Homo sapiens: one gene and its partner. The protein of the gene in region 2 binds, or shares a complex with, the protein of the main gene of each other region. Each region holds a gene or a part of one and is shown on either strand. Other genes may lie near its edges.

Evidence for each region.
Region 1: the proteins of STAP1 (region 2) and LAT2 are in contact, whole or in part, in a crystal structure (PDB 3MAZ), measured with the Homo sapiens proteins. Residues at the interface, in NP_001304698.1 of Homo sapiens: Arg184, Arg203, Pro204, Gly205, Ser206, Ser212, Ile215, Gln217, Ile219, Lys225, His226, Tyr227, Lys228, Glu239, Leu240, Glu241, Tyr255, Phe256, Glu259, Thr260, Arg261, Asn263, Leu264; in NP_054865.2 of Homo sapiens: Asn134, Ser135, Tyr136, Glu137, Asn138, Val139, Leu140, Ile141, Lys143.

The regions. Positions count from the first base shown.
Region 1 is NC_000007.14:74,205,273-74,213,008, reverse strand, and holds the start of LAT2 (linker for activation of T-cells family member 2), read right to left. Parts: upstream 3,004-7,736; 5' UTR 2,921-3,003; intron 1-2,920. UniProt on the Homo sapiens protein: Involved in FCER1 (high affinity immunoglobulin epsilon receptor)-mediated signaling in mast cells.
Region 2 is NC_000004.12:67,554,661-67,561,731, forward strand, and holds the start of STAP1 (signal-transducing adaptor protein 1), read left to right. Parts: upstream 1-4,066; 5' UTR 4,067-4,149; coding exon 4,150-4,269; intron 4,270-7,071. UniProt on the Homo sapiens protein: In BCR signaling, appears to function as a docking protein acting downstream of TEC and participates in a positive feedback loop by increasing the activity of TEC.

The DNA of each region.
Region 1 (7,736 bases), on a different chromosome or scaffold from region 2:
AGGACCTCTCTGGACTTCCCAAATCCCTGCGGTAAGATGACAGGGAATCTCCATGCGGCCCTGAGCCTCTGTAAGAGGCGCATCACAGAGAAGCCACCAGGCCTCTCCCCAAAAGCCAAGTGAGTCAGTGGGAACAAGTGAATTTCTGAGCCGTGTGACTGGCACGACCCACGTCACCCCGGGAGGTTGTCCGAGGAAAGCTCTGCTCTCTCTTCCCCATGGCCCGCCTGGGCACTGCCCTTCTCCCTCCTCGAAACTCTCCTTGCCTCAGTGCCCCCAACCCGGGGTGTACCCCCAACCCCTCCAGCATGGCCCAAGTTCATCTCAGGCTTGTGAGGTTGGAGCAACTTGTCTTGCAGGAGGGCTCATGGGACCAAATCTAGCCTCTGCCTGAGAGCCCCCCGCCTCAGTTTTCTCATCTATAAAATGAGGTCGGGCTGGGTACAGGGACTCACACCTGTAATCCCAATACTTTGGGAGGCTGAGACAGGAGGATCACTTGAGTTTGAGACCAGCTTGGCCAACATGGTGAAACCCTGTTTCTACTAGAAATACAAAAATTAGCCAGGCGTGGAGGTGCAAGCCTGTAATTCCAGCTACTTGGGAGGCTGAGGCATGAGAATCACTTGAACTCAGGAGGCAGTGAGTTGCAGTGAGCTGAGATCACGCCAGTGCACTCCAGCATGGGAGACAGAGTGAGACTCCATCTCAAAATAATAATAATAATAATAATAAATTAAATAAATGAATAAATAAAATGGGATCAGGCTGGGCGTGGTGGCTGACGCCTGTAATCTCAACACTGGGAGGCCGAGACAGGAGGATCGCTTGAGGCCAGGAGTTCGAGACCAGCATGGACGATGTAACAAGGCCCTGTCTCTACAAAAAAATGAAAAAATTAGGCAGGCGCAGTGGCACATGCCTGTGGTTCCAGCTACTTGGGACACTGAGGCAAGAGAATTGCTTGAGCCCAGGAGTTGGAAGCTGCAGTGAGCCAAGATCACACCACTGAACTCCAGCCTGGGTGACAGAGCAAGACCCCATCTCTAAAAACAAAAAATGAAATTTAACAAACAGTCATGTGTCTGCCCCCAGACTGAATACATCCTGCGCTGTTGGCCGGGTGCGGTAGTTCACACCTGTAATCCCAACACTTTGGGAGGCTGAGGCGGGCAAATCATCTGAGGTCAGGAGTTCAAGACCAGCCTGGCCAACATGGTGAAACCCTGTCTCTACTAAAAATAAAAAATTAGGCCAGGCACGGTGGCTCACACCTGTAATCCCAGCACTTTGGGAGGCCGAGGCAGGCAGATCACAAAGTCAGGAGATTGAGACCATCCTGGCTAACATGGCGAAACCCCGTCTCTACTAAAAATACAAAAAATTAGCCGGTCGTGGTGGCAGGCGCCTCTAGTCTCAGCTACTCGGGAGGCTGAGGCAGGAGAATGGCATGTACCCGGGAGGTGGAGCTTGCAGTGAGCCAAGATTGCACCACTGCACTCCCAGCCTGGGAGACAGAGCAAGACTGTCTCCAAAAAATAAAAAATAAATAAAAAATAAAAAATTAGCCAGGTGTGGTAGCACGTGCCTGTAGTCCCCAGCTACTTGGAAGGGTAAGGCAGGAGAACTGCTTGAACCTGGGAGGTGGAGGTTGCAGTGAGCCGAGATCACGCCACTGCACTCCAGCCTGGACAACAGAGTGAGACTCCGTTTAAAAAAATTCTGTGCTCTCTCTCTGTCTCTGTCTCCCTTTGTGTCTCTGTCTCGCTCTCACTTTCACTCTCCCATCCAGGTTCTGAAAGCAGGTGGGCTGAGGTGGAGGGAGCGGAGGGTGGACCCTCTGAGGCCCCCAGGGGCCGGCAGGGCTGGGCGGGGTGGGGAGTGGGGGCTGCCACAGACCACGGTTCTGCAGAGGCCAAAATAGCACTAAAGGGAAGTGGGCAGTTTTCATATGAACAACGATTGCCAAGAGCTGGCTTCGGGGAAGTTCTCGGGGCTGGGCTGGAGGAGCTACAGTGTCTGAATCCCGCCTGGAAGGACGCTCGAGACCACCCTGCCGGTTCTCCCAGCCTTCTCCGAGCTGAGCTGTGGTTGGGGACACTGGGGTTGGGGAGGGGGCAGCCTGGCTTGAAGCCCTGGATGGCTTTATCCACTGGACTCTGCTCTGGGGTCTGTTGGTTTTTTCATTTAGTTTTTAATTATATTTTTTTATTTTTATTTTTTAAAGAGATGGGAGTCTCACTATGTTGCTCAGGCTGGTCTCCAGCTCCTGACTTCAAATGATCCTCCCGCCTTGGCCTCCCCAAATGCTGGGATTACAGGTTGAGCCACCGTGCCCGGCTGGTCCTGTTGCTTTTTCCAAATAACTCTGGGCTTCAAATGAGCCTAGCTGGGAGGGAGAGAGGGAGGCGGGCGGGTGCAGGAGGGGCCTGAGCAGCCCTGGTCCCAGGGACAGAGTTGAGGGCCAGGTAGGGGGCTGGGCAGGGAGGCAGTGGGGGTTCTTCACCTGACCTGGGGCAAGACCTGGGCCCTGGCCTGTAATCCCACCGTTTTCCCCTGACCTGTGTAGGGGGTTACAGTCCCATTTCACGGATGAGGAAACCGAGGCTCCCAGGCCAGGGCAGCCACTGTTTTGGCTCTCGGCCACTTACTTCACCAGTCTCTGGCAATGATGGGACCACCCTGGGATGTCCCAAGGCTACACAGGCTGGACAGGGGAAGGCGAGGGCAAGAGAGTGGCCAGAAGCCCAGAAACAAACTGACCCCTGAAGTGCCACAGAGCCTGGTGCCAGGGTGAGAGTGGGGCTGCGGGAGGGGGCGCCAGGCATCCAGGCCTCTTCCCACCCCACCCAGTGGGGCCAGGAGCTCCTGGGGGATGGGGGACAGCCTGAGGACTGAGGCACCCCTGGGAAAGGCTTACCTGAGAGTCCAGGGTTCCTCACCACGGCCGCCCCATCCTGAGCCCGCACACCTGCCCAAGCTGATGCCAACACCACTGACACTGGCGGGCGGGCAGGGCGGGCTTCCTGCCAGCCACTGAATCATCCGTACATCCGCCGCACTGCCGGACAGGCTCAGCTATGAAGAGGGCGGTGGGGGGAAGGGAGGGGAGACGGGGGAAGGAGGCGGGAGAGAGAGAGAGAAGAGAAACAAAGTGAGAGGGAGAAAGAGAAGAAAGAGAGATAGGACCGGGCGAGGTGGCTCACACCTGTAATCCAAAAACTTTGGGAGGCCGAGGCGGGTGGATCACGTAAGGTCAAGAGTTTAAGACCAGCCTGGCCAACATGGTGAAACCCCGTCTCTATTAAAAATACAAAATTAGCTGGGCATGGTGGCATGTGTCTGTAATTCCAGCTACTCGGGAGGCTGAGGCAGGAGAATCGTTTGAACCTCAGAAGCAGAGGTTGCAGTGAGCCGAGATCGCACCACTGCACTCCAGCCTGGGTGACAGAGGGAGACTCCGTCTCAAAAAACAGAAAGAAAAAGAGAGAGACACAGCAGAGAGACACAAGAGAACAGGAAAATATGGACACACACTAAACACACACATAAACACAAAAAGTCACACAGAGAGGAAGAGAGATACACTCCAATAGACAGGGAGCAAGATAATGAAACTGAGGTGCTCCTGCAGATGGCAGATATGGAGACACACATACGCTAAAAAGACACACACAGGCAGAAATTCACACCCATGGGCCGGGCGCGGTGGCTCATGCCTGTAATCCCAGCACTTTGGGAGGCCAAGGCAGGCAGGTCATGAAGTCAGGGGTTCAAAACCAGCCTGACCAACATGGTGAAACCCCATATCTACCAAAAATACAAAAATTATCTGGGTGTGGTGGCGGGTGCCTGTAATCCCAGCTACTCGGGAGGCTGAGGCAGGAGAATTGCTTGAACCCAGGAGGTGGAGGTTGCAGTGAGCCAAGATAGCGCCACTGCACTCCAGCCTGGGTGACAGAGCAAGACTTCATCTCAAAAAAAAAAAAAAAAAGAAGAAGACACACACAGGCAGAAATTCATACCCATGGGCCAGGCACGGTGGCTCATGCCTGTAATCCCAACACTTTGGGAGGCTGAAGCAGGAGAATCACCTGAGGTCTGGAGTTCAAGACCAGCCTGGCCAACATGGTGAAACCCCATCTCTACAAAAAATTTAAAAATTAGCTGGGCATGAGATGGACCAAGACACACACAGAGAGACACACAGAAAGATACAGAGAGCCACAGACTGTCAGAGACACACACAGATGGGGAGAGAGCAAGAAACAGGGAGATAGAGGCCAGGTGCAGTGGCTTGCACCTGCAATCCTAACATTTTTGGAGGCTGAGGCAGGAGGATCGCTTGAGAACAGGAATTTGAGACCAGCCTGGACAACAGAACGAGACCCCATCTCTAAAAAAATTTTTTTAATTAGCTGGGTGTGGTGGCACACACCTGTAGTCCCAGTGTTTTGGGAGGCCAAAACGGGAGGATTTCTTGAGCCCAAGAGTTGGAGGCTGCAGTGAGCCGTGACTCTGCCACTGCACTCCAGCCTGGGGGACAGCAAGACCCTGTCTGTCTGTAAAAACAATAAATAGGCCGGGCGTGGTGGCTCACATCTGTAATCCCAGCACTTTGGGAGGCCAAGGCAGGTGGATCACCTTATTTAGGTCGGGAGTTTGAGACCAGCCTGGCCAAAATGGTGAAACCCCATCTCTACTAAAAATACAAAAATTTGCCGGGTGTGATGGTGGGTGCCTGTAATCCCAGCTACTTGGGAGGCTGAGGCAGGAGAATCACTTGAGCCCAGAAGGCGGAGTTTGCAGTGAGCCAAGATCGTGCCACTGCACTACAGCCTGGACAACAGAGCGAGACTCCATCTCAAAAAAACAAAACAAAAACAAAAAAACCCAAAAAACACAACAAAAAAATTTAAAATAATAATAATTATTATTTAATTAATAGCTCAATGGCCTTGGGCAGCTGTTTAATGGTCAATAGCACAAGGCAGTCCACCCACTTGTGGGATGTGGCTTTATTGACCTCAGGTGCCAGAGCATCCTGGCCTCCACAGGGAACTATCTCACTCGGTCCTCATGTCTGTGTGGATGGCAGCCACGGTGTCCACCCCAGGGCTGGGCACAGGAGCACCGCTGGGCAGGAGTGGGCTGTGGTCCCTCTGCCTGTGCTATGAGCCGTTCTCTGCACCCCGATGCCAGGAGCCTCATCTGTGCAGTGGGGTGATGAGACCCCCAAGGCTGGGGTGGAGCAGGGCTCTCCTTCCTTCTCCCACCCTTTAGCGCCCTCGCTGTCTGCAGCCTCTGACACTCGTGCCGTCCACTCCTCCACCTGTCTTTGGTCACTTGTTCCATCTGCCCTGCCCTCGTGGCCTCTGCAGGGGTCTCTCTGTCCCTGCCCTGCCCACCTACATCCCGCATCCTTTGTCTCTGTGTCCATCTGTCTCATCCTCTGGGACTCTTGCTGTCTGACCCTCTGTCTCTATTCCTCGCCTGCTTTTTTTTTTTTTTTTTGAGACAGGGTCTCACTCGGTCCAGAGGTGAAGCTGAATTTGAACCCAGACCCCAAAGCCTGGCTTCCTCACTGGGACCCCCTGACTGGCTCCTCCTCACACAATGGGAACAAGCCTGCAACAGTTTCCCTTCAGCCCCAGACTGTGCACCTGGATAGAGGTTACCTGCTGTTCTTTCCCCTTTTTTAAAATTTTTTTTGAGATGGGGTCTCACCCGGTCACTCAGGCTGGAGTGCAGTGGTGCAATCTCAGCTCACTGCAACCTCTGCCTCCCAGGCTCAAACGATCCTCCCACCTCAGCCTCCAGAGTTAGCTGGAACCCCAGGTGCATGCCACCACGCCCAGCTAATTTTTGTATTTTTTTTTTTTTGTAGAGACAAGGTCTCACTATGTTGCCCAGGCTGGTCTTGAACTCCTGGCCTTAAGCGATCCTCCATCCTCAGCCTCCCAAAGTGCAGGGATTACAGGCGTGAGGCCACCGCGCCTGGTCCCATTGAACCCGGTGTTTATCCCACCTGCTGGAGACACCAGGGAAGAGCATGACGGTCCCCCACCTCCTATATGTCTGGCATTTCAGAACCTTGGCCCCCAGTCCTGGACGCCTCTAGGCCTGGGACCCTGGCTCTGGGGTCCCACTCTCAGCTTGGGGCTAGGTTTCTCTTTTAGCCTTGGCCGCGGTGTCCCGGCCTGGCCAGAAAGAGGTGGCCGCGGAGACGAGCGGCTAGGCCCGCTGCTGCCACCTCGTGGACAAGGAGGGTAGCACATGCTCCAGAGACCGGTTCTGAGAGATTCTGCAGGCGTCCGTGTCAGGAGCTCACCCTGCCTCCCTCTGTGGCCGGACTAGGACTGAAGCTAGGGCCATCAGACGCCCAGACCTGTGCCTGTGCGAGCAACCGCCACCCTCCCTTGTTCCATCCAGCAATGCCAAGTGCACTGGATTCAGGACCACGTTTCCTTCCCACGGTAACCGGTAAGAAGACAGAGGCTCACAGAGGTGAAGCTGGATTTGAACCCAGAGGCCAAAGCCTGGCTTCCTTGCTGGGACCCCCTGACTGGCTCCTCCTCACACAATGGGAACAAACCTGCATCTGTTTCCCTCCAGCCCCAGACTATGCACCTGGACAGGACTTACCTGCTGTTCTTTTTCTTTCTTTTTTTCTCATTTTTTTTTTTTAGATGGGGTCTTGCTTGGTCACCCAGGCTGGAGAGCGGTGCGGCGATCTCGGCTCACTGCAAACTCTGCCTCCCGGGTTCAAGCAATTCTCCTGCTTCAGCCTCCTGAGTAGTTGGGATTACATACACCTGCCACCACGCCCGGCTAATTTTTTGTACTTTTAGTACAGACGGGGTTTCACTATGTTGGCCAGGCTGGTCTCAAACTCCTGGATTCAAGTAATCTGCCTGCTCGGCCTCCCAGAGTGCCGGGATTACACTGCACCCAGTCTGTTCTGGTTTTTGTTTTTTGTTTGTTTGTTTTTGTTTTTTTTTGACAGGGTCTTGCTCTGTCACCTATGCTGGAGTGCAGCGGCAAGATCATAGCTCACTGCAGCCTCCAACTCTCGGGCTCAAGTGATCCTTCCACCTCTGCCTCGCCTGTAGGTGGGACTACAGGTGCAGGCCACTGTGCTTGGCTCATTTTAAAACTTTGTAGTGATGGGGTCTCACTGTGTTGCCCAGGCTGTTCTTGAATGCCTGGGTTCAAGTGATCCTCCCACCTTAGCCTCCCAAAGTGCTGGGATTACAGGCATGAGCCATCGCACCCAGCCTACCTGCTCTGTTCTAGCTCCCTGCTTCCTTCACGGGCCTGGGCACTGGTAGGTGCTGGAGGGAAATGGTCTGTGAAAGGACCTCATATGCAAAACGATCTTACAGACAGAAGCGTGGTCTTTTTTTTTTTTTTTTTTTTTGAGATGGAGTCTCATTCTGTCACCCGGGCTGGAGTGCAGTAGCATGATCTCGGCTCACCTCTGCCTCTGCCTCCTGGGTTCCAGCGATTCTCCTGCCTCAGCCTCCCTAGTAGCTGGGATCACAGGCACCTACCACCACACCCAGCTAATATTTGTATTTTTAGTAGAGACTGGGTTTCACTATGTTGGCCAGGCTGGTCTCGAACTCCTGACCTCAGGTGATCCACCTGCCTCAGTTTCCCAAAGTGTTGGGATTACAGGCGTGAGCTACGGCACCCAGCCAATAAGTCTGGTCTTGCACAGCTGGGAGAGGGGT
Region 2 (7,071 bases):
GAAAAAGAAAATGTGGCTTAACTCTATCAATAGTAATAAAAAATTTACTCATAATAAAGATTGTATTGGATTCATACCAGCCATTGATAAGCTATAAGTATTTCACACAATGGTTAAAATTAAAGTTGTATTCTTCAGGTATGAGTTGCAAAAATAAATGTATTCAATTAAAATATCTTAGAAATATACTACCGCAAATTATAATGCATATGGCAATAAATCATCAGTAAGTATTAAGCAAAACAAAGGTCAGAAATGTGGAAGTACTGGAGCAGGGTTGGTTGATTTGATTGATTCAGTACTAATAAATGGATAGAAAAGTATTTTAGAGATCCTCAATTATTGTAAAAAATGTGGATTTTTACTCAGATGACCTTATAACATAGAGGAGTCAATACAGCACTGAGATTTTGGTTTATATGAGTTAAATCTTATACTTCACCCAAAGTTGTTAAGTTATATTTGCCATAAAACCTGATTTGTAACAATCTTCTGTGACACAGATGCTACTGATGGCTGTAATGTTGGGCTCCAATAGTTTAATAGTAACATGATTGTTCTACAAGGCAACACAAGAATCATATGTCAACCAATGGTCACATATATCAGAAAAAAGGAAACTCCTGTCACAATGGAAGCTAATAATTCTCCAAACTAGAATCATATTTTTTAGCTAGAAGCTATTCAGTAAATATATGATATTGCAATCTACTTATAACCAACCCCTACTTCAACACAATCTTTCCTTTGGAAAAACTGTTTCTTGTTGATACTCAATGTATACAAATAACTACAACAGGACAAATACTATAAGAAAGAAATCGTGCAAAGTGCTTTGGGAAAGCAGAAATGAGAGTAATAACTTTTTTTTTTGTGGGGGTGAAGAAAGCTTCAGGAAATTAGGAGATGTTCAGAATTAAGGATAGATTCAGCCTGGGTCTTGAAGGACGAGTAGGACATTACCATATAAACAAAGAGAAGGAGGGGCATCTAAGCAGAGTACAGTGACTGAAAAGGTATGAGGAGACAGGGAAGATCATAGGGTATTCAGGCAACTGAGACTAAATGAAATTACCAGAGCAAAGGGTATTTTGAGGAGTTATTATTTAAAAGGGGCCCTGCTATAAAGGACCAACGTGCCATGCTTGAGCCCATTGTTGGTATTCAATAAGTATTTAGTGTTCAATAAAAAATATTTAAAAAGGAATCTCAAAAGCAATGAGAATCCTTTAAAGTCTTTTCAGTAGGGGAATATCTTGATTAGGTTGAATATTAAATGAATCAAAGAAGAAAAAGAGTGGAAACTAGGAGACTACTTAAAAGCCTTTTGCAGCTCTTCAAACAATAAGTCATGTAGTCCATCGCCTCCTTGTATAGGTGAGGAAGCTATGATACCAGAGAAGTCAAGTGGTTTGTTCAAGGTCTCAAGAGCTGGTTAGTAGCAAAATTAGTTTATGCCCTATGTCCAAACATATTTTCTACTATATTTCCTTACCTACAAATTTATTCTTCACTGCCTAAGACTTGAGGTATCTGTAAGAGGATTTCCATTGTAATGGTGCAGTGGTGCAATGACACTAGTCATTGCAGACAGGACTAACTTGTTAATATTGTTTAAGCAAGATTTTTGCATTTTGTAGTCTTTTTCAGGGAGATATAATTTGATTCTTGGTATATTAAGAATGAATTTGACGAACAAATCAGCAGACCAAAGTAACTTACTGTGTCTGATTAGCTGTTTTTAAATTGTTGCTTATATTTTAAAGGCAAAAAAAAAACTAAGTGCTTATTTAACAACAACAAAAAATCCCCTTTACATTTTTTTAGAGGTATTATTTTCTCTCACCTATGAAACTTTCTGACCATAAAGTCAGTGCGTAATCACTGATGATTCCCAGCATTCTTTCTTTATCCTTGCTTCTTTTCATTTTTCAATTCTTAATCCCTCCTTTCACTTCCCCCCTGTATTACAACAACTAACAGCTGCCAAGAAAGTGGATTAGGTCATATATTCAATCAGGAGGTTTTCCTGTTATTCAAGTCACTTTCTTAGTATACCGAAACTAAAAAATAGTTATGGTTTTTGCCTCAAAAAATTCAGTTGGACTTATATTTTATTATTTGAAGGTTGGGTAGCAAGAAGCAGGTCTAAACTTACAAAAGCAAAGCAGTCATTTTGGATCTTCAACTCCCTATTTCTGTCTTGAGCTGTTTTCATTTTGATAATACATCTGAACACTCTTCTCTAACTTACTGATAATCAGTCCGTATTGTTCTACCTCACTTTGTAGACAATTTGTCATCCCATATCTACAGCTGCAGGATCAGTGGGACCCATACTGGTGGAGAAAACCATGCAGTCTCTCCATTAGGAAAGGAGAATCAGACTGAAGACTCCTGACTTGCTTTGATTTCTAATAATAGGCTGGTCTCACTGGGCCCAGGCTGTTCTAAATCTAGAGTAGTTCTGAAATACTGAGTGTGAAATAGGCAATGGTAGAAATTCTTAGGACCCCTGTAAGACAAATCAAAATTCCTTCTAGTATTCTTTTCTCCCATCATTTCCTGCACTGTGCTACGCCAAATCCAATCTCTTAAGGACCATTTCCTACATGCAACCATTGAGTGCACTTTGGCCCCAGTATAGCTTTATAAATCTCACTAGATAACTGTGGGAAGTCCATCCATGAATCATAGTATCAATGGTCTGCAGCTCAGAAAGCACAAAAGAACAAAATAAAAGTTTGAAAACTTACAGCTTTCTCTGCCAGATATTTTTTTGCCAAATATCTTAGACTCCTTTGTGTTGCTGTAACAGAATGCCACAGACTGGTAATTTATAATGAACAGAAATGTATTTCGCTCATGGTTCTGGAGTCTGGAAGTCAAAGAACATGGCCAGCATCTGATGAGGACCTTCATGCAGCATCATTCCATGGCAGAAGATAGAAGAGCAAGAGAGGATGATAGCATGTGAGAAAGTGCCAAACTTGATTTTATAAAAAACCCACTTCCAGGCCAGGTGCAATGGCTCACACATGTAATCCCAGCACTTTGGGAGGCCACAGCAGGAGAATCGCTTGAGCCCAAGAGTTTGAGACCAACCTGGGCAACATAGGGAGATACTGTCTATACAAAAAATGAAAAAGTTAGCTAGGAGTGGTGGCGCGTGCCTTGTAGTCCCAGCTACTTAGGAGGCTGATGTGTGAGGATTGTTTGAGCCTGAGAGGTCAAGGCTGCAGTGAGCTGTGATTGCACCAGTGTATTCCAGCCTGGGCAACAGAGCAAGACCCTGCCTCTGAAAAAAGAGAAAGAAACCCACTCCCACAGCATTAATTAATTCATTCATTCATGAGGGCAGAGGCCTCATGACTTAATCACCTTCTAAAAGTCCCATTTCTAAACACTGTTGCATTGGGGATTAAGTTTCTAACACATAAGTTTTGGAGGACACATTCAAAACATAGCACTAAATATTCATTGGGAACTCATGTACTTGGAATATCTACTGGCAAAAAAAAAAAAAAAAGAAAGAAAGAAAAAAGAAAAAAATTCCATATTCCGTGTTCCCATAATTGTGGTTTATATTTAGTGAAGCATCAAATGAGCATGAGATACAACTATTTTTTTTATTTACACAAAACTTGACCCTAAAATATTTAACCAACAGAAGTAGTACTAATAAAATTATTCTATGAAGTAATTTTTAATGAAGCTGAGTTTATTCAAGTCATGTCTTCTGCAAATAAAAATGGACACCAATAAACAAAAACAAAGATAGAAAGAATAACTGTGTTCTTGATATCTCCCCTAAAGTTCACAATCTCTACACCTGTTTCTTTCATCTTCTGGTGATGTTAATCTTCTGTTTATTTTGCGCTTTAAATCTAAGCACATGTGGATTACCCAGAGATTGCCCTCTGAAAGTCAGTCTACACCTGTTCTTTCTTACCTCACAAAAAGTAATGGAAAAAAAAGTGTGTGTGTGTGTGTGTGCGTCTGTGTGTGTGTGTGTCCTGTTGGTGGTAGTGTTGGTGGTTAAAAAGCAATTTGGGACTTCCTCTTTGAACAGTTGCCTTTTCCTCTCACAGAAGGAAGATTTCATTTTGTTTGAGACGAGAAACCAAACCACACACCAAAGAGAGGGGTATGATGGCTAAGAAGCCCCCAAAACCAGCCCCTCGCAGGATCTTCCAGGAAAGGTTAAAGATTACTGCTCTACCTTTGTACTTTGAAGGTTTTTTATTAATCAAGCGGTCAGGATACCGGGTGAGTCTATAGATGATAATGTTAAACCTAAGACTTCTGTTTTAATTTAATATTTATTTCATGGTGATGTGATGTGTTAAGACCTCCTTGTTTCTGTTGAAATTAAATCATCTTCTCTTCTTTGAGCTCAGAAAAATGATTCCAATTTTTCATAATTTAAATACAATGTCTGGCTTAAACCTGTATGTATACACATATATAATATGTATAATAACAGAGGTTGTAATATTAAGGCACTAATATAAAAAAGTCAATAAGCTAAATTTCCAAAGAATTTATTTAAATATCACAAAAGATTTTGGCTTGGGAGATAAAATGTTTCTTGTATTTTCTCCACAATTTATTGCTATGCTTCAATGATGACATGTACCATTAAGATAAAATGATATCATGATTAAAATTAAACCTGCTCCTGTTCTGAGTCATTTGAAGTTTATAATGATCAAATTATTAAAAATGGCTTTTGTAAAAATTGTTAAAATGACAAAGTTCATACTGTTTAACATTATATATAGTTATGTGTTCTAAAATACTATTCAAGATAGTGACTTTTAATTTTTGGGGTACTACTGTGGGTATTAAGTACACTAAGCTACATAAATACCTTTGCTCTAAGAAAATCCATGAAGCATTCTGTATTTTTAAATGTAATAATTAAAACTTATAGTTAGTTAAAATCATTACTTTTAAAACAGTAATTATGGATGACTTGAAATTAATTAGAGAAATAAGCCCAAAATTGCCTGTTATTAAATAAAAAAATCATTAAGTTAGGTCAAATTTTATGAAATTGTATACTGACTAAAACTAGAAAAATTTTAAGGTTTTCAGAAATTCCATCAGAAATGTTTAATGATGCTAAAATATATTTTCTGAGGATTTATGAATACTTGTGGAAAAATTATATATATGAAAAATCTATAATAGCATATTCACATTTCTTACATATATAATCAGATCATTTACTATTTGAGAGTAAAGACATGGTAATTTGTATTCTGTTATGGATGTTAAACATGCATAAATAATTACCTTTCAGTTATATTAGAATTTTTTAGATTGATCCTATATGCTTTTAATGTAAATTCAATCTTGTCACCACAGGTAAGCCACATAGTCACACTTTGCCAGGAAAGGGAAGTTGAGAAAAAAAAATTCTAATTAGTAATTTAAATCAGGTTGTTCATTGAATGTTTTCCAAGGTATTTATAATAACTGTTTATGATAGCAGTTTTTTTTAAATGCTTAAAGAAGACATGTCATTGGTATGGTTAGCAGAAAGAATAAGAATTTTAGAGTGTCCTTTATCTGATGGTTTTGCCACTTATAGCTTGTGATCTTGTGCAAGTTACTCAATCTCCTTGAGACTGTTTCAACTATAAGATAGAGAGTATACTACTTGCTACTTGCCTCCTAAGGTACATTCTAGGATTCAGTAGGTGTTCAATCAATTTATTCACTCAACATTTATTGTGTGCCTCCTATGCACCAAGCATCACTCATTTCTGGAGAATATGGAAAAAAACACAAAGATTTTATTTTCAAGAGGCTTAATATAGTAGGAATGATGTCTTCCTTACCAAATTTCTACTCTTTACCTTCTCTTAGAAAGCATTCTTTGAAGCAGAATGAATACCTATAGGCATAAATATTTCCAATGAAATTAACTTGTGTTTCTATTTGAATTTATAGTAAAGTATCTTTGTGTGTGTGGGTGTGTGTCTGTGTGTGTGTGTGTGTGTGTGACAGTGTCTCCTCTGTTGCCCAAGCTGGAGTGCAATGGTGCAATCACTAGTCATGCAGCCTTGACATCCCCGGCTCCGGTGATTCTCCTGCCTCAGCCTCCTGAGTAGCTGGGACTACAAGCGCATACCACACCCGGCTAACGTTTGTATTGTTTATAGAGACAGGGTTTCATCACGTTGTTCAGGTTGGTCTCAAACTCCTGGGCTCAAGCAACCTGCCCACCTTGGCCTCCCAATGTGCTAGAATTACAGGCATGGGCCTCTGAGTTAGACCACTAAGTACCTTTTACTTGTATGTCAGGGAGAAGAGAGCAAGAGGATGACAATAATACCTACTTATGTGGTGGTTTCAGGGATTAAAGGGATAGCATATGTAAAACACCTGGCTCACACTAAAGGTTAGATTCATTCTCTTACCCTTTCATCACTTATCATACTCTTATTCAGGTACTAAAATTAGTTTGAGGTCTGCAAGTAATATGACTCCAAGGAGAGTGAGCATGGTGATAATTAGAGTACTTGAAAATAGAAGCTATGAGAAAAATCTAAGCAAAATAAGTGGAATTTCCAAGCAATTGGCAGCAAAGTGCCAGGGAATCTTTGAACAGAAGGTGAGCCAAAGGTATATAGCCAAGTAATCTTTGGAGCTGATTGGCTAGAGGAAGGTGAGAGGCTCTGCAGAATGTAAAGTTGGGTCTCTGCCAAAGTCATTCAGAACATTTAAACTAGAAAAAATATAACTGAAGAGTAACCTGGTCTATAAAGGCATGAAATGCTGAGAGGTGCTTCTTAGCTATTTTTTGTGGGGCACTTTTAAGTATTTAAAGAGCTTTTCCCCAGGAAAATGTAACAACGTATACCATTTTGCATGCAATTCTAGAAGGTTTCTAAATCTGAGGTCAAGAACCCATGAAAAACACATAATCTTTATGGAAAAGATAATGTGGGAAGATTTATTTAAGCCACAGCACTAGGATTCTGAATTAACCAGGAAGATGTGTTTATTATCAAAGCTGTTAAATGCCACAGTGGAATACCATTGGCATCGCAGTTCTTA